2 separate regions of the Homo sapiens genome follow, and region 1 is linked to region 2. Evidence: fine-mapped expression QTL. A gene starts in region 2. The other region holds a variant in brackets. All regions are shown on one strand. Distances are between the middles of the regions. Region 1 overlaps FLT3 (fms related receptor tyrosine kinase 3). Region 2 holds the start of FLT3 (fms related receptor tyrosine kinase 3).

What was found. PIP is the estimated chance that this variant, and not a neighbour inherited with it, causes the effect.
Region 1: its variant is the best candidate, but not a certain one, in a credible set for the expression of FLT3 in cerebellar hemisphere (GTEx, PIP 0.90).

The regions. Positions count from the first base shown.
Region 1 is chr13:28,022,339-28,031,512 of GRCh38, reverse strand. It overlaps FLT3 (fms related receptor tyrosine kinase 3), which reads left to right. Exons shown (of 24, transcript NM_004119.3): 16 at 3,225-3,335; 17 at 4,272-4,425; 18 at 6,570-6,652; 19 at 8,036-8,163. Among named protein-coding and RNA genes, the nearest start is that of URAD, 38 kb to the right of the region's middle. RefSeq lists enhancers at 8,042-8,574, 8,575-9,108. The variant C/T (reference allele first, on the strand shown) is at 3,656.
Region 2 is chr13:28,096,485-28,105,658 of GRCh38, reverse strand. It overlaps FLT3 (fms related receptor tyrosine kinase 3), which reads left to right and starts at 5,083. Exons shown (of 24, transcript NM_004119.3): 1 at 5,083-5,191. The coding sequence starts at 5,149. RefSeq lists an enhancer at 4,670-4,799 and silencers at 4,910-4,969, 5,090-5,249.

The DNA.
Region 1 (9,174 bases), 74 kb after region 2:
TTGTCCCATCTGTCCAGTAGCCCCTGTGCCTCATGAGGGCAGGGTCTGTGTCTGTGGTGCTGTGCTCTCTCCTTTCTCGACCTTTGCCCACTCTTTCACAACCCTCAGCACTGTTCTCCTCCCCTTCCACCATGAGTCACCTGGCCAGCTCCCATTTTTCTTCAGGACTCAGTTTAGACATTGAATGCTCCTTTCTCCACCCCTCCAAGGCTAAGGTAGCTATCCCTTTTGACCCTACAGTACCCCTGCACTCCTTTGCCACGTTGCATTTTTTCTTCTTTTTTTGAGACGGAGTCTCACTCTGTCGCCCAGGCTGGAGTGCAGTGGCACCATCTCAGCTCACTGTAAGCTCCGCCTCCTGGGTTCACGCCATTCTCCTGCCTCAGCCTCCCTAGCAGCTGGGACTACAGGCACCCACCACCACGCCCGGCTAAATTTTTTTGTATTTTTAGTAGAGACAGAGTTTCACCGTGTTAGCCAGGATGGTCTTGATCTCCTGACCTCGTGATCCGCCTGTCTCAGCCTCCCAAAGTGCTGGGATTACAGGCATGAGCCACCGTGCCCAGCCCAACGTTGCATTTTTTCTTTTTCTTTCTTTTTTCTTTTTTTGAGATAGGGTCTCACTCTGTCACCCAGGCTGGAGTGCAGTGAAGTCATCATAGCTCACGGCAAGCTTCAAGTCCTGGGCTCAAGTGATGGTCTGCAGCCTTTCCAGTAACTGGAACTACATGCAGGCACCACCAAGCCCAGCTAATTTTTATTTTATTTTATTTTATTTATTTATGTATTTTTACTTTATTTTATTTTTAAGTAGAGACAAGCTCTTGCTATTTTGCCCGGGCCTTTCTTGAACTTCTGGGTACCAGCAATTCTCCCGCTTGTCTCAGCCTCCCAAGATGTTGGGATTAGAGGCGCGGGGACCCACGTCTTGCCTGCCGTATTGCATTTATGGCACTGTATTGTCATGGCTTATTTACTTCTCTGCCTTCTCCAGGAGACTCTAAGATCCAGGAAGACAAGGGTTGTGTCTTGTTTTTCCTTCATTCCCCAGTGTCTAGGACATTGGCTCTTACAGAGTAGGCACTCAATAAATACTTGTTGAATGACTGAATGAAAGAGGTAATGGTACATGAAAATGCTTAGAAGAAGCTAAGCATGCTAAAAAATGTAAGATATTATTTTAGCCATGAGGAATAGGACATGAACAAGTAAAGCCCCGAATCCCTGTCCAGCGTGAAGCTGAAGACATGATGTATTAGGGGGTCCCAGTGCCCACAGGAAATCCCACCCCCAAGCTAAAATCTTGGAAACAAGGATACCCCTGAGAGCTTGCCCAAACCAAAATAGAGGATGTCAGCACCGGAGAAGCCACTATAAAGGTTAGGATGCCTTCCTGGACAAAATAATGGAACCTGGCAATCGAACCAAATCTTCACTGAATGTAAAGAAGAGTTACTATATCTGGAAGAAAAAGTCTGTTCACAGAGGGGTGGTGCCTGGAGCCTGGAGAGGGAAGTCCAGAGACCCTGCCCTTGCCCCTGTGGCTGCCCGGGCTGCCCTGACCAACTGCACATGAGCCGCAATGACGGGAGCCCTTGGATTCCATAGTGACTTTCCTCACACTGTGCTTCTAAGTCAGCTTATAAGTACAGTTTGCTGAGCTATCTGGAATTTTCCCTAGAGAGAGAATGCATTGGCCAACCAATATGTTCTAGCCTGCTTGGCAGTTTTATTTCTCAATGTCAATTAATGGGTCTCTTGAGCACCTGATAGTGGGAATTAGTCCTCTTTGACCTTCTCCCATTGGACTTGCTGGCAAATCTAATGTTCTAGACCTGAGGGCCACAGGCTAGAGTCAACCATGCTCACGACACTGTTATCTCTCTCTGACTACAACAGATCCAAGAGTTCAAACAAACAAACAAAAAGGACGTTTCTCCCTTCTGTTAACTTGTACTGAGGAGGAAAAGCATGTGTTATTATTTTGTTTGTTTGTTTTGAGGGCCAACTGTAAGGATTTTTATTTTGGTAGGTAGAGGAAAGTCCTGTTGAAAGGTGCATTACCAGATTCAACATTTATACTATAGTCTTTGTTTTGTTTTGTTTTGTTTTGTTTTTGAGACAGAGTCTCGCTCTGTCACCCAGGCTGGAGTGGTGCAGGGGCTCAATCTCGGCTCACTGCAACCTCTGCCTCCCCAGTTCAAGGGATTCTTTTGCCTCATCCTCCTGAGTAGCTGGAATTACAGGTACGCACCGGCACGCCCGGCTAATTTTTTGTATGTTTAGTAGAGACAGGGTTTCACCATGTTGGCCAGGTTGGTCTTCAACTCCTGACCTTAAGTGATCCACCCGCCTTGGCCTCCCAAAGTGTTGGGATTACAGGTGTGAGCCACTGCGCCCAGCCCTATACTACAGTCTGAATTCTGCCTTAGGCTGGGCATGGTGGCTCATGCCTGTATTCCCAGCACTTTGGGAGGCGGAGTTGGGAGGATTGCTTGAATCTAGGAGTTCAAGACCAGCCTGGGCAACATGGTGAGACCCCATCTCTACAAAAAATATAAAAATTAGCTGGGCATGATGGCCTGTGCTTGTAGTACCAGTAACTTGGAGGGCTGAGGTAGGAGGATCACTTGAGCCCAGGAGGCAGAGGCTACAGTAAGCTGAGATCATGTCACTACACTCCAGCCTGGGTGACAGAGTGAGATACTGTGTCAAAAAAAAAGAAAGAAAGAAAAGGAAAAAAAAAAAAGAAAAAGGAGAAATTCTGTCTTAAAACACAGGATATTGTTTGTTTGTTTATTTATTTATTTATTTTAAGATGGAGTTTCACTCTTGTTGCCCAGGCTGGAGTGCAATGGTGCAGTCTCAGCTAATTGCAACCTCTGCCTCCCACATTCAAGCGATTCTCCTGCCTCATCCTCCCAAGTAGCTGGGATTACAGGTGCCTGCCACCACGCCTGGCTAATTTTTGTATTTTTAGTAGAGACGAGGTTTCACCATATTGGCCAGGCCAGTCTTGAACTTCTGACCTCAAGTGATCCACCCACCTCGGCCTCCCAAAGTGCTGGGATTACAGGCATGACCCACCATGCCTGGCTTCTCTCATAATTTTGAATTTAAATAAATAATGCAGATTGACTCTGAGCTGAGAAAAATTTTATTTAATGACATAAAATTCGTATTTTACTTGAGTTTTACATTTTTAATGCTCCTTTCTTTGACAGAAAAAGCAGACAGCTCTGAAAGAGAGGCACTCATGTCAGAACTCAAGATGATGACCCAGCTGGGAAGCCACGAGAATATTGTGAACCTGCTGGGGGCGTGCACACTGTCAGGTAACCCACTTCCACGAAAATCACCTCATCAAAAAGACTGTAGCTTGATGACAAAGAGGATGTTTGCTCTCTCTCTCTCTCTCTCTCTTTTTAATTCTTTGTCTTTTCTCAGTCACAGTGTGAACTCTCAAACCCAAGTGGAATTAGACACTGAGCACTCTATAAATCAGAGGGGTCAAAATAAAGAATGCCTCATTCATCTGCTTTATCGTGATATATTGCATAATTCTCACCTGCTTAAAAACAACAACAACAACAACATTGCAAGTACATTTGGTGGTGTCTGTGCTTCTCTCCCAGCTTGGAAGCTGGTGCACAGG[C/T]GTGGTGAGAGTGGTTACAGAGCCTGGCCACTGCCCCAGTTGGGCTGCCGTCAAATACGGCACAGCCTAGCTAGGATATCAGACTTTACTTTCCCAGAATTCTCTGGGGCATGCCCTCTGATCTTCTCTCTTCTGCCTAGAAATACCCAAATGATGTGCCCAAGGTTCATTCTTTCTGCAGCAGCAGGCCTGGGGCTGGTACTAAAAGAAAGGAAAAAGAGGAAAGTGAATCTGAGAGAGGACTGGGAATATATTTCTCCCTCCTCAAGCAAACAGCAAATCAGCATATAGTTACCAAGTGTTCACCTATAATACACAGCTAGAACATTACTTTCAGTTGCCAACTGGAGAATCCAGGAGGCCAGTGGTATTGGTGAGGCCACACATACAAAAAAGGGCCACAGAGAATGTCAAGAAGATGCTGCTTTCCAAAGAAATTTGAGCAAAAGCTGAAACTGAATTTAAAGTATAAGAAGAGCTAGGCTCAGAAAAAGTTGTACTGTCCCCAAGTCAGCAGAGAACCAAGCCCTCCTAAGAGTATGTTGTCTGCTACATAGACTTCTGAAATAACAGTTTGCTTTGTGTATGCCTATAATTGAAACTGTAACTATTTCAGGACCAATTTACTTGATTTTTGAATACTGTTGCTATGGTGATCTTCTCAACTATCTAAGAAGTAAAAGAGAAAAATTTCACAGGACTTGGACAGAGATTTTCAAGGAACACAATTTCAGTTTTTACCCCACTTTCCAATCACATCCAAATTCCAGGTAAGAGGCTGGGTCAGGGTTTCGTAATTACACATCATAGAACGTAGGCAAAGTGTGCTGTTCAAACACACTTCGTTGACCAGTTTCTAAAGGCACCGTGAAGTCTGTGGGTCCTGCAACCTAGAGATTTCCTGAATCTTTGCTATAGTTTCCCTGTTGACATGGAACGAGTCCTGTCCCTTTCCTTCAGTACAGGTACTATAGCTGAGCTAGTCTCTCTCCACCCATGCCTGCATCACACCATAGACGCCTATTTGGTTTGGGGAAAGGTGCATTATTCGGTCTTTCAGGACACCTGGTTGCCTCACAGGTATTGGTAGAAAGAATGAAGACTTTTTCCAAAGTCCTTAACATATGCAAAGAGAGCAGCTCGGGTCCTGGGACTATTGCGCAAAAGAACGCTGAACTCAAATTGGATTCTAAGATATTAGGATGGATTGATCGACACGTGATGGGGACACAGTAAAGTAGCAGTAACCTTGTCTCTGCTCTGTGTTTATCCTCCGCATCCATGGGGATCCTGAGAGATGCTTGGTCCTGCAGGGATTTATTGCTTTAGCGGGCATAAATGAGGGCTGTAGGAGTTTGCTGGATCTCCTCCTCATCCTTGAACTTTCTTGCTAATTACTTGAGCATCATGGCTTTGTAGCACCTTTCTCTGAATGGATTCCCAGGCATTCTGATGGAGGCATTCGTTGAGCCTTGGAGCATTCTTTTTTTTTTTTTTTTTTTTTTCAGACAGAGTTTCGCTCTGTTGCCTAGGCTGGAGTGGTGCAATGGTGTGATCTCGGCTCACTGCAACCTCCACATCCCAGGTTCAAGCGATTCTCTTGCCTCAGCCTCCCGAGTAGCTGAGATTACAGGCATGTGCCACCACGCCCAGCTAATTTTGTATTTTTAGTGGAGACAGGGTTTCACCATGTTGGTCAGGCTGGTGTTGAACTCCTGACCTCAGTTGATCCACCCACCTAGGCCCCGCAAAGTGCTGGAATTATAGGCATGAGCCACCGCACCTGGCTGAGCCTTGGCGCGTTCTTATTTCCCTCCCTGTATGGAAGTTCTCCCTTATTCTGAAGGGTATTTGTTTATTGGAGACTTTTTTCTTTACCAGGGGCTTTTTAGGGATACATTTGAGAGTCCCGGCTTTGTTTTCTTAGAATGTAAGTTTTAAGTGCAGGCCTCTGGCCTTCCAGGTCTGAGACACAGACCCAGTGTCTTAAAGCCACCAGGCCCCACGGAGATCCCCATGCACGTCCGTGTGCAGCTGCCCTTAACCTATGCATGCCCGTCACACCGTCCTCTCCTTTACACTCATTTCCCAGCTCATCGTCTAGAAATGAGAACTCTATAAAGCCACTCATATTCTGGAACAGAGGGGCTATCCTACTGAGTCCGATGTGTGTGACCAGTATCCACTGGTCAGTACTTAGCCCCTTTGATTCGTTCTGTTCACTGGAATATTAAATACACTGAAATTATTCCTTTTGGAATATTTGTGGTCTGAAAGCATGAAGCCATTTCCTAAAGATATGTAAATTGTAAATTGGGTTAAACTCGTATATTAGAATAAATTGAATCGTGATCTACTTATAATTCCTACAGAGCTCCTCAGGGAAGAATTTTTATATACCTTAAAAGAGATTTGTATTATTGCTATTTATTAATTTCACAGTAAAAAGAAATGAGCTTTACAAAGGCAAACTGGAAAAAAGAAGGATGGTGAAACGCTTACGGGACTCTCGGGAAGATCTGTATTATGTGAGGGAAAGTGGGCTGAGTTCAGAAACCAAAGAATGAGATCGATGTGAGTCCTGGTTCCACTCGAATCATATTTATCTCACTGTGCCTAATTTCTCTTTTATAAAATGCCACCCATCTCATAGGTTGTGGCAAGGATTGAGTGAGGTCCTTTTTGAACTGTAAGATTCTATATGGAAAACAGGGATTACTTTTATCTTAGACTGGCAAGCCCAGTTACACAGATGTTTTTAATGTACACAAAAAATGGACAAATGGATGGTGTGCTTTTAATTTAAAAGTCAATTTATAACTGGAATCCATTTATTTGATGAATTACATTTTTAAAATAAAATGTCTGCTGAGAAGAATAATGTAAATAATGAAAAAACAAAATTTTTTAATAGCATGCCTGGTTCAAGAGAAGTTCAGATACACCCGGACTCGGATCAAATCTCAGGGCTTCATGGGAATTCATTTCACTCTGAAGGTAATATTTTATTCTAAGTAGTAGCACTTTAAAATGGAAATGAATGCAAAAGTTTTATGTTAGCTATTTTTTAAAAGTGTGTAAACACAAAAGCATTTTAAAATTTGCTAATTGTCAGATGATAGCTAAAAGCCAGTTTGTATACTGTAGATTTTATGTCAACATTCAACTAATAAACACTGAGGACTATTTTATTTGGTCAGATTATTCATTTAAAGTCATATATTAATTACAGCCATCTTATTACCTGACAAGTGGAAGAGATAATGAGTTCCGAAGTTACATAGAATTTGGATTAACTTCTGCTTACTTTGCTTTCTGACTGGATGACTTTGGACAAGTTATGTGACCACCAGAATCACAATTTTCTTGTTTATAAAATAGGCCTAACACTACCTTCCTCACAGGACTGTTAGAAGGAGTAAATGAGGGGCTGGCCGTGGTGGCTCACGCCTGTAATCACGCCTTGGGAGGCCGAGGCAGGCAGGTCACCTGAGGTCAGGAGTTCAAGACCAGCCTGGCCCAACATGGAGAAACCTTGTCTCTACTAAAAATACAAAAATTAGCTGGGTATGGTGGTGCACGCCTGCAATCCCAGCTACTTGGGAGGCTGAGGCAGGAGGATTGCTTGAACCCAAGAGGCAGAGGTTGCAGTGAGCTGAGATTGCACCACTGCATTCCAACCTGGGCAACAGAGTGAGACTTCAACTCAAAAAAAAAAAAGAAAGAAAGAAAAAAAAAGGAAGGAGTAAATGGAAGAATATAAAATGCACAATATAGTTTATAAAATAGGATAGATGGGCCGGGCACAGTGGCTCATGCCTGTAATCCCACCACTTTGGGAGGCTCAGGTGGGTGGATCACGAGGTCAGGAGATCAAGACCATCCTGGCTAACACGGTGAAACCCTTCTCTACTAAAAATACAAAAAATTAGCATGAGCCTGTAGTCCCAGCTACTCGGGAAGCTGAGGCAGGAGAATCCAGTTGCAGCAGGCCAAGATCGTGTCACTGCACTCCAGCCTGGGCGACAGAGCGAGACTCCTTCTCAAAAAAAAAAGGGATAGACAATTAATATTAATTCCTTTCCCACTGTGACAGCCCTACCTAGTGCAAAAGAGAAGTATCTAAAACTCCTGACTAATCAATCAGGAGGTCATCGGTCATCAAAGCAGTTCCAAAGTTTATCTCTAACCAAAACAAGTCTCCAGTGACCCTTCATAGGCAGCATAAACAGGTCATCTCTAATGCTGCCGGGAAGATAATGCGATAGCTTCATGTCTTAGCACCTCACCTAACTCTGGCTTGAATAACCTTCCCATAGAGATTTAATAAGGCAACTTCTTAGAGTTTTGGCAAAAGTGAAGACTGGCTCTATTTTACAGATGAAATTGAATATGAAAACCAAAAAAGGCTGGAAGAAGAGGAGGACTTGAATGTGCTTACATTTGAAGATCTTCTTTGCTTTGCATATCAAGTTGCCAAAGGAATGGAATTTCTGGAATTTAAGTCGGTATGCTCCTTTTAAAGAAAAAACAAACCAAAAAAAAGATTTGAAAAGATGTGCTTATATATGTTTTCTTGTTTATTTTAACTTGTATCCCTTAAAGTCTGCCTTTTCTCCCCTGTTCACTGTTGGAGTCACCTAGCGTGTTACCTTGGCTCTTGGCTAATTGTAGTAGCATAAAGGCCTGGGATCCCTTGTGAGGTCACGGCTAGCACAGCCCTCCCAGGCTGCACAAAGTCCCCTGAAACTTCCAAGGCTGAAGGTCGAGATAGGAAGTCCTCAGAAATCCTTCCTCAAAACAAAGCGTAGCATTGTCAGTCCCTTTCAGAACGGCTGTTCAGGTTGTGCCCTGCATGTGGGCATTCAACCCAGGGGATGAGAGGAGGCTGAAACCGAGCCAGCCACCCTGAGTGTCTTTGTCTAATTCTCACCCTGCGTGCTGTGGGCTGGCAGCAGTCCTGCAGGCTCACTGCCTCCTCTGTTGCTAACCCCAGATCCATTCGTTGGTAAGGCCCTGGAGCCTGCCGTGAACCATGTCTCTACCCCAATTTTGCACTCTTTTTGAACTGCCTTTCCACCCGCTGTTCTCTGTGATTTCAAATGTCTCCTGCCTATAAGCAGATCATAGCCCACTCTCTGGCTACCTTCCTTCCTCGTTTGCTTGCCTTTCATTACCTTCTCTTTATTTCCCAAAATTCTTCCCCCTCATTTTTCTTGCAGTCTTCTAATCTCCTCCTCCTCTTCTCCTCCACTTCCTTCCCCTTGCCTCTTCTCTCCTGTTTTCTCTCTGAATTTGGAAAGACTACTTTCAATTGTATTTTTTTGTTTTGTTTTGTTTTGTTTTTGGAGACAGTCTCGCTCTGTTGCCCAGGCTGGAGTGCAGTGGCGTGATCTTGGCTCACTACAACCTCTGCTTCCTGGGTTCAAGCAATTCTCATGCCTCGGCCTTCCGTGTAGCTGGGACCACGGGTGCATACCAGCATGCCTGGCTAATTTTTTGTATTTTAATAGAGATGG
Region 2 (9,174 bases):
TGCAATGGCACCATCTCGGCTCACTGCAACCTCCGCCTCCTGGGTTCAAGTGATTCTCCTGCCTCAGCCTCCCTCCCAAGTAGCTGGGATTACAGGTGCGTGCCACTGTGCCCGGCTAATTTTTGTACTTTTAGTAGAGACGGGGTTTCACCATGTTGGCCAGGCTGGTCTCAAACTCCTGACCTGTGATCCGCCCGCCTCGGCCTCCCAAAATACTGTGATTACAGGCATGAGCCACCGCACCCGGCCTTTAATTTTCTTTTGTTGTGAAATACATCATATTCACAGCAGTGTGTAAAAATAATTACATAGTTTAAAGAATAACAATAAAATGAACATCCAGCACCCACCACAGAGGTTAAAAAAAAATAGGGTGTGGTTGGACATGGTGGTCCACACCTGTAGTCCCAGCTACCCAGAGGCTTGAGCCCAGGAGTTCAAGGCTGCAGTGAGCTATGGTCGTGCCTGTGAATAGCCATTACACTCCAGCTTGGGCAGTGTAGCAAGACCCTATCGCAAAACAACAATAGGGTATGTTAGCACCTCAGAAATCCCCAGTTTGTCTTCTCTAATTAAACCTCCTCTTCCCACCCCATACCAGACGTAACCACAATCCTGACTTTTGTGGTAATTATTCCTTTACTTTCCTTATACCCCTATGAATGTATTCCTAAGGAGAATATTGTTTGCTTCCGCCTTTATGTCTATTATTCCATGACTTGCTTTTCCCCCTCAACATTATGTTTTTGAGATTCATTCATGGTGTGTCAGGTAACTGTAGCTCATTCATTTACACTGTTATTTAATATATAGGTATTTTATTATGACTGTACTGCAATTTATCCTTTTGTTGGTGGGCATTTAGATTGTTCCCAATTTTTTGATATTATAAACAATAATGCTATGAACATTCTTATACTTGTCTCTTGGCACATATGTGTTTCTTTGAGGTTTATATCTGGGGGTGAAACTGCTGGCTGGAGGATATGTTCAACTTTAGTAAGATATGCCAAATTATTTTTCAAAGTGCTCACACCCATTGGGATGTCCACCAACAGTGTGTGGGTGTTCTCCATTGCTCTGAATTCTTGTCAACACTTTGTATTGTCAGATTTTGCCAATTGGTGAGTTCAAAGCCCCTATTAATAAAAGATGTGTAAAATTATACTATAAAGTTGATATCTCAACTGAACTCACATGAACCCTATTCAAATATTCCTTTTGTTTGTCCCTGATTTTCAGGAAAACATAAGGCTTTGTAAGTTAAAAATGACATGAAAGTATTTCACCTGTGAGCTGCTACGAAACTATGTCACAATTTTTGGAGAGAGAGAGGAAAGGGAGAGGAGATATTTGTGTGACTTAAGGGGTGGAAACATGGTATCAAGATGCTGGTAAGATAGATGACCACTTACTCATGGCTAAGCATCATGGTGCTAAGAATCTAGATAAAATACATCCTTTCGTAGAGTTAGCACTAGACACTCCATTCAACCCAGAAACAAACTTACTCTTCTCTTTTCCGATTTCCCGTTTCAGCTCATTTCTTCTAGTTGCTTTTGACCCTTTAAGAGTTTCTTTATTACAGAATTCCTATCATGAACTCTGACACCAAAATTTCATACTTGGGCATGCATACCTGGGCGTGTAATCCAGGACTCTAGACAATTTCAGGCTACTTTCCTTAAGTGTTGCTGTGAGGAAGAAATTAGTTCTCATATTAGATATGACTCTTGGCACATCACAGAAAAACATGGGCATTACTTCACCTTCTGTTAGCCTATACCTCATACTCCAAAATATTTCAGTCTATAAGATTTGCTCCTTCTAGAATTATTTTTTCCACCAATTTCCACGGAAAATCAAGTGTTCCTAGAAACCATTCCTGGCTGGCCGCGGTGACTCACACCTGTAATCCCAGCACTTTGGGAGTCCAAGGAGGGTGGATCACGAGGTCAGGAGTTTGAGACCAGCCTGGCCAAGATGGTGAAACCCTTCTCTACTAAAAATACAAAATTAGCTGGGCGCAGTGGCGGGTGCCTGTAATCCCAGCTACTCAGGTGGCTGAGGCTGGAGAATCGCTTGAACCCGGGAGGCGGAGGTTGTAGTGAGCCTAGATCGTGCCACTGCACTCTAGCCTGGGCGACAGAGCAAGACTCTGTCTCAAAAAAAGAAACCATTCCTAACTTCTCCTCTCTCACCAACCCCCTTTTTCATGAAGATCTCTGCCTTGTGTCCAAGATTCTTGGACAAAGCAGCAGTATCTTTATGATTTTGTATCCTGAATACTGCTGCACTCAAGCTGATGTTCTGCAAATTTGTAATAATCAGTTTCATTTTTTTTTTAGTTTTTCATTTTATTTATTTATTTTTTTGAGACGGAATCTCCCTCTGTCGCCCAGGCTGGAGTGTAGTGGCGCGATCTTGGCTCACTGCAACCTCCGCTCCCCAAGTTTAAGCAATTCTCTGCCTCAGCCTCCTGAGTAGCTGGGATTACAGGCGTATGCCACCACGCCTGGCTAATTTTTTGTATTTTTAGTAGAGACAGGTTTCACCATCTTTGCCAGGCTGGTCTTGAACTCCTGACCTCGTGATCCACCTGCCTTAGCTTCCCAAAGTGCTGGGATTACAGGCATGAGCCACTACGCCCGGCGAAGACCAAGTCTTGCTCTGTTGCCCAGGCTGGAGTGCAGTGGCATGATCTCAGTTCACTGCAACATCTGCTTCCTGGGTTCAAGCAATTCCCCTGCCTCAGCCTCCCAAGTAGCTACGACTACAGTGCCACCATGCCCAGCTAATTTTTGTATTTTTGTTAGAGATGGGGTTTCACCATGTTGGTCAGGCTGGTCTCCAACTCCTGACCTCAAATGATCCACCCGCTTTGGCCTCCCAAAGCGCTGGGATTGCAGGCATGAGCCACAGCGCCCAGCCAATCAGTTTCCTTTAAGACAGTAATTGAGCTTTAAATAGAAGGTAGTGTGTTAGGTCTTGGCCATTGGAAGCTCGCTTTTCTCCCCATAACCAGCCTGTTTCATTGCTTTATCTCCTCATGTTTCACTTATTTCAGGCCATCTTCCTTCACTTCTGTTTCTGACCTAAGGTAGACACAACACTCTTTAAAAAAATTTTTAAACCCCCAGCAGCTACACAAAAACTTAAAAAATTTAAAATTGAGGTAAAATACACATACATAAAATTTACCATCTTAACTTTTTGTTTTTGTTTTTGTTTTTGAGACAGAGTCTCACTCTGTCACCCAGGCTGGAGTGCAGTGGTGTGATCTCAGCTCACTGCAGCCTCTGCCTCCCGGGTTCCAGTGATTCTCCTGCCTCAACCTCCCAGGTAGCTGGGATTACAGGCATGCGCCACTACGCCTGGCTAATTGTTGCATTTTTGTAGAGATGGGGTTTCACCATGTTGGCTAGGCTGGTCTCGAACTGCTGACCTCAGGTGATCTGCCCACCTCGGCCTCCCAAAGTGCTAGGATTACAGGCATGAGCCACCGCACCCAGCCTTAGCCATTTTTAAGTGTACAGTTTAGTAGCGTTAAGTACATTCACATTGTTGTGCAACCAGTCTCCAGAACTCTGCTCATCTTGCAAAACTGAAACTCTGTATCCATTAAACACTGGCTCCCCATTTCCCCCTGCCCCCAGCCCATGGTAACCACCATTTAACTTTCTGTCTTTATGAATTTGTAATGGGATACAGTATTGTATTTTTTGGGACTAGCTTATTTCACTTAGCATAATGTCAAGATTCATCCATATTTTAGCTGTATCAGAATTTCCCTCCTCTTTAAAGCTGAAAAATACTCAGTCGTATGTATATACTGCATTTTTGTTTATCATTCATCTGTTGTGGACATGGGTTACTTCTGCCTTTTGACTACTGTGAATAATGCTGCTTTCAACACGGGTGTACAGACATCTCTTCAAGACCCTGCTTTCAATTCTTTTGGCTACATGGCCAGAAATGGAATTGTTGGACCGTATTTTTTTTAATTTTTTGAGAAACCTCTATAGTGTTTTCCATAGTGGCTGCACCATGGTAGACACTTCTAAAGTTTCTGCCATACCCTAGGGGAAAGAATTATTGTACTGTAGACAACATCTAAGGAAAAGAACTGTATGGCCAAGAGTAAACAGTCAATTTTCATGCTTTATTAGAAAATAATTAAAATAATTAAGAGCGTGGAATTCCTAGAATTGGGAGAGACATTATGAACCATTTGGTCCATCCCTTTCCTTTACGATGAGTAAACAGAGGTTTGTGGAGGTCAAACGGCTAGTTAAGTAAGGGAAGAACCAGAACTGGCATCCAGAGCTTTCCAATCCTCAACTTATTGCAAAGAAAATAATAATAATTTTCAACTCGAAAAATTATGCGATGAAGAACAAGAACTATTGAGCGGATGATTCGCAACATCCTCTGGGATGTATTTTCTGTGTGTTTTGTTTTGAAGGCTGTTTGTTAACCTCCCTAATTGCCTTGGTTGACATTGAAACCCTGCCTGTTTTTCTTGATCCCGCCGCTGACTGGGTCCTGAGCATCCTAGGAGATGGAGGCAGAGACAAAGGAAATCAGTCCACAATTAAGAATGGAATGGTTCTTAATGGAATGCTCGCCTGTGCGCTGGCGGGAGTTGCCAGCGTGCCGAGCGGATTCAGCGCCTTTCTCAGGGCCTCAAAGATCCCAGCGCACTAGGAGGGTGGTTTGTGGCTCCCTGCAGTCCCCACGCCCCGGATCCAAACGACAGAGTTCGGGGACTCACAGGGGCAGCAAGGCGGCAGAGCCGCGGAGCCAGTGCAACTTCTCCGGCGGGACCGCGCCCAATCTTCCCCGCCGCAGTCGGGGAGCCCCGGGGGCCGCCGAGCACAGGCTGCGGACCGCGGCGGGCACGTGGGCTCGGCTGCAGCGCTGCGCCAGGCACCGGCTGCTCGGCTCTGCCCAACCTCTCCGCTCCCGCCTCGGTCCCTGCCTCTGGGGAGAGGGTTCCTCCCCCCTTCCACTTTGCACCAGTCCGAGGGAATTTGCGGTCGGTGACGCGCATCCTTAAGAGAGCCACCTGCAGCGCGAGGCGCGCCGCTCCAGGCGGCATCGCAGGGCTGGGCCGGCGCGGCCTGGGGACCCCGGGCTCCGGAGGCCATGCCGGCGTTGGCGCGCGACGGCGGCCAGCTGCCGCTGCTCGGTAAGGCCCCGCTCGCTCGCTCGCAGCCCCTCGCGGTCCCTCAGCCCCCACCCCGCAGTGTGGACCCGGGCGCGCGCCTCCTCCGGCCCAGCCGCCTCGCTCCTCCCCGCGCTCGCTCCTTCCATTGCCTCCCGCGCCCCTCCCCTCTTTCGCGCCCTCCGGACTCGCCCACTACTTGCCTGCGGCCCCGGCGTTTCCCACCCCGCGTCCTCTTCCCTCTTCTCCGAAGTCTCTCCTCTGGCTCGGGCCGCGGTCCCGAGTGGCGGCCCGGACTTCGCAGACGGCCTCGCCGAGGCGCTGCGCCGGGTCTGGGGCAGCTCGGCCCGCGCGCTCGGGTGCTGGGCCGTCCGTGGGAGTCTGCGGCCGCGAACTCGGCGCCAGGTGGCCAAGGACCTCTCCTGGCCCGGCCCTTGGATACTGTAGACACCTGGGTGTCGTCTTTAACTCTTCTTTTGAGGTTTTGATTTATGGAGGGAACTCTGATGGGAAAATGCGTCCGCGTTCTCCCCTAGAGCGAGTCATCCTCAATAACGATACCCCCCAGCCCCGCCGAATTTTGGTTGGATCAACGAATAGTTTACCTAGGAAATATTATGCAAACAGATTTACATATTAAAATACTAGCTGTCCCTTTCTTCTAGTCTCTTCTTATCCTGGCATAAACCCCAAAGGGGTTTTCAAGGACTCCGAGGACTGTCCCCAAAGAATCTGCTGGGTAGCATAGTTGTTATTGAAAAAAAAAATCTTCCCATCGGTTCGCGTCAGCTTTCTATTTGGAAAGATGAGAGGACTGAATCGAATTTGGGTTGAAGGCGACAGAGTTCTGGGTGCCCGGCAGCTCCGGTCCCTGTCCTAGGTCTGCAACCTTGGGACTGACACTCACCTCCCCCGGCCTCCGCGTCCTCATCTGTGCAGTGAGGGAGTCCGTCCGAGTCCCCTTCAGCTCTGAAATGCTAGGACTTGAAGTCTCTGTGGTAAATAGAGAAAATGCTTGCAATATAGAAGTGCAGGAATTATATCCAATAGCTTTTGTTACAAATAATTCTGAAATATAAAAAGTAAAAAATGGAAATCGGGGGAAAAGAGTTGAAAAACAAAGACATTTTAGTTCTTAAATAGTTATCTTTACTAGTTAGTAAATCTGTAATTTCAAATGTGTAGTACAATATGTTTTCCAGATTCCGTTAATACAAAATGTTAGCTTTCTATTATGTATGATATTAAGTAGTAAGTGCATTTTTCAGAAGCATAATGGGCTTTCTAAAGGTATAAGCATCAATACTTGCAACGATATTTAAGCTGCATGGAATTCTTTTCTATTTAGGAAAGAATTCAGAAATTTCTATGTCTCTCTCTCCAGATATTTCTAAATGAAGTATAATTGGCACACAGTAAATATGCACACATCTTAAGAGTACAATTTCATTAGTTTTCACATATGTACGTGCCCAAATAACCACGATCAGACTGAGATATAGAGCAATTCTAGCTCCACCCTCTCTGTCAGTACCCCCTCCCCAGGTAGCCACTATTCTGACTTCTGATGCCATGGATTGCTTTTGCCTATGTTTGAACTTCATGTAAACCAAACCATCATCGTGTGCTCTTTTATGTCCACCTTCTTTTACTCAACATTATAATAATAAGATTCAACCTTGTTCTCTGTAGCAGTGTTTTTTTTTTTAATTGCTGGTACCATTCCGTGGTATGAATAGATCTTATAATTTATTTTATCCATTATGTTCACGAAGCACATGGAAGTTGTTCCAATTTTGTGTAATTATGCATAGCACTGCTGTGAACATTGTTTTATATATGGTGGACATAAACACCAGTATAAAGGATTATGCCCACAAGTAGAATTCCTGGATCATAGGGAAGGGATATGTTCAGGTTTGGTAGATACCGTCAAACGGTTTTCCACAGTGGTTACACCAATTTCCACTCCCACTAGCAGTGTATGGCAGTTCCAGTTCCTCACATCTTTGCCAATACTTTGTATTATGGATTTTCTTGAATAAAGAAGGATAAAGTGAGAAGCTTAAACATGAGAACTTTAAAATGGTTAATAGCCTTAAATTCTTTGAATTAGAACATGGGATCCCAATTTCCCTTATATTGTAAACACTACTTTTTTTTTTTTTTTTTTTTTTGAGACGGAGTCTTGCTCTGTCACCCAGGCTGGAGTGTAGTGGCGCGATCTCAGCTCACTGCAACCTCCGCCTCCCAGGTTCAAGCGATTCTCCTGCCTCAGCCTCCTGAGTAGCTGGGATTACAGGTGCGTGCCACCGCACCCAGCTAATTTTTGTATTTTTAGTAGAGACGAGGTTTCACCATGTTGGCCAGGCTGGTCTCGAACTCCTGACCTTAGGCGATCCACCCACCTCAGCCTCCCAAAGCGCTGGGATTACAGGTATGAGCCACCACACCCGGCCATGCCCAGACTTCTATTCATCATTTATGAATAATGATGAAGCTTTCTAAGTGGCATTTGAAGGAGAGGAACATGTTCCCAATGGGCTTTTCTGCATTATCTGCTGATACTGGACAGAGAGAAGTATTTCAATATTTTAAGAGCTATGATACTACCTTTTTCATTAGTGTTAAAAAAAATTCGTATTCAAAGCCTTGAACTGCACATTTGAGTTGCCATTCTTTGCTCTTGTTGCTTATCTTAGTTTATTTGCCTTCTTGGAAACTCCTAGCCCAAGGGGGAATGATTCAGGAGAAAGTGGAGGGAAGGGACACTCAGCAAAGCTTGGTTTGGATTGGATGTGAGCCCAGACCTGCCGACCTGACATTAATGTCCCCTCTGACTCTGAAACTCTAGTTCTAATTTTTGCCATTATATAGGTGTAGATTGGATATTCATTTCTTTTTAGGTACTTCACGTCTATCTATAGTAAATTATCCTCTTAGGTTTAATTGTGAACTTCTTGCCTTACATTAAAAATGGATTAACTTTTTATAACTAAGAAGGCACTTTCAGTAACTCTTAGCTATTGGTAAATATTTGTTATTGGATTCTCCTGTTGTTTAAACTGAAAAACAATCAGGCAATGAGATATTAAATGGGAAGGAGGAAGACTTACTTATATTCCAAGGGAAGACTTCAGATAAGAAAAATGAAGAGAAAACATGCATTAGGAAGAAAAAATCTGTTTTTATTTAACAAACTTTAATTGAATACCCATTTTTTTCCTTCCTTCCTTCTTTCCTTCCTTCCTTTCTTTCTTTCTTTTTCTTTCTTTCTTTCGACAGTCTCCCTTTGTCATTGAGGCTGGAGTGCAGTGGTGTGATCACAGCTCACTGCAGCTTCAACCTCCTGGGCTCAAGCAAGCCTCCTACCTCAGCCTCCTGAGTACCTGGGACCACAGGCACGTGCCACCACACCTCATTAATTTTTTGAAAAATTTTTTGGTAGAGATGAGATCTCACTGTATTGCTCAGGCTAATCTTGAACTCCTGGGCTCAAGTGATCCTCCCAAAGTGCTAGGATTACAGGTGTGAGCTACCGTGCCTGACAGAATACCTATTTCTTGCTAGGCACAAGCAGTACAAAGATTAAAGAGATGGAGGTAGGGGAACTTGTGTATAAATAACCAATTTTATTTTTTTAAGAAATGTGTGGTCATTGCCTTTCCCCAGGAAAAGTATTTCAGTATGCTTTCTTTTATTAAACCTTCCAACACAGTTATTATGATTACTAAATATACATTAAAAATTGCATGAGTCTGGCTGGGTGCGATGGCTCATGCCTGTAATCCCAGCACTTTGGGAGGCTGAGGCAGGCAGATCACTTGAGGAGTTTGAGACCAGCCTGGCCAACATGGTGAAACCCTGTTTCTACTAAAAATACAAAAGTTAGCCAGGCGTGGTGGCAGACGCTTGTAATCCCAGCTACTTGGGAGGCTGAAGCAGGAGAATCACTTGAGCCTGGGAGGCAGAGGTTGCAGTGAGCCAAGATTGCGCCATTGCACTAT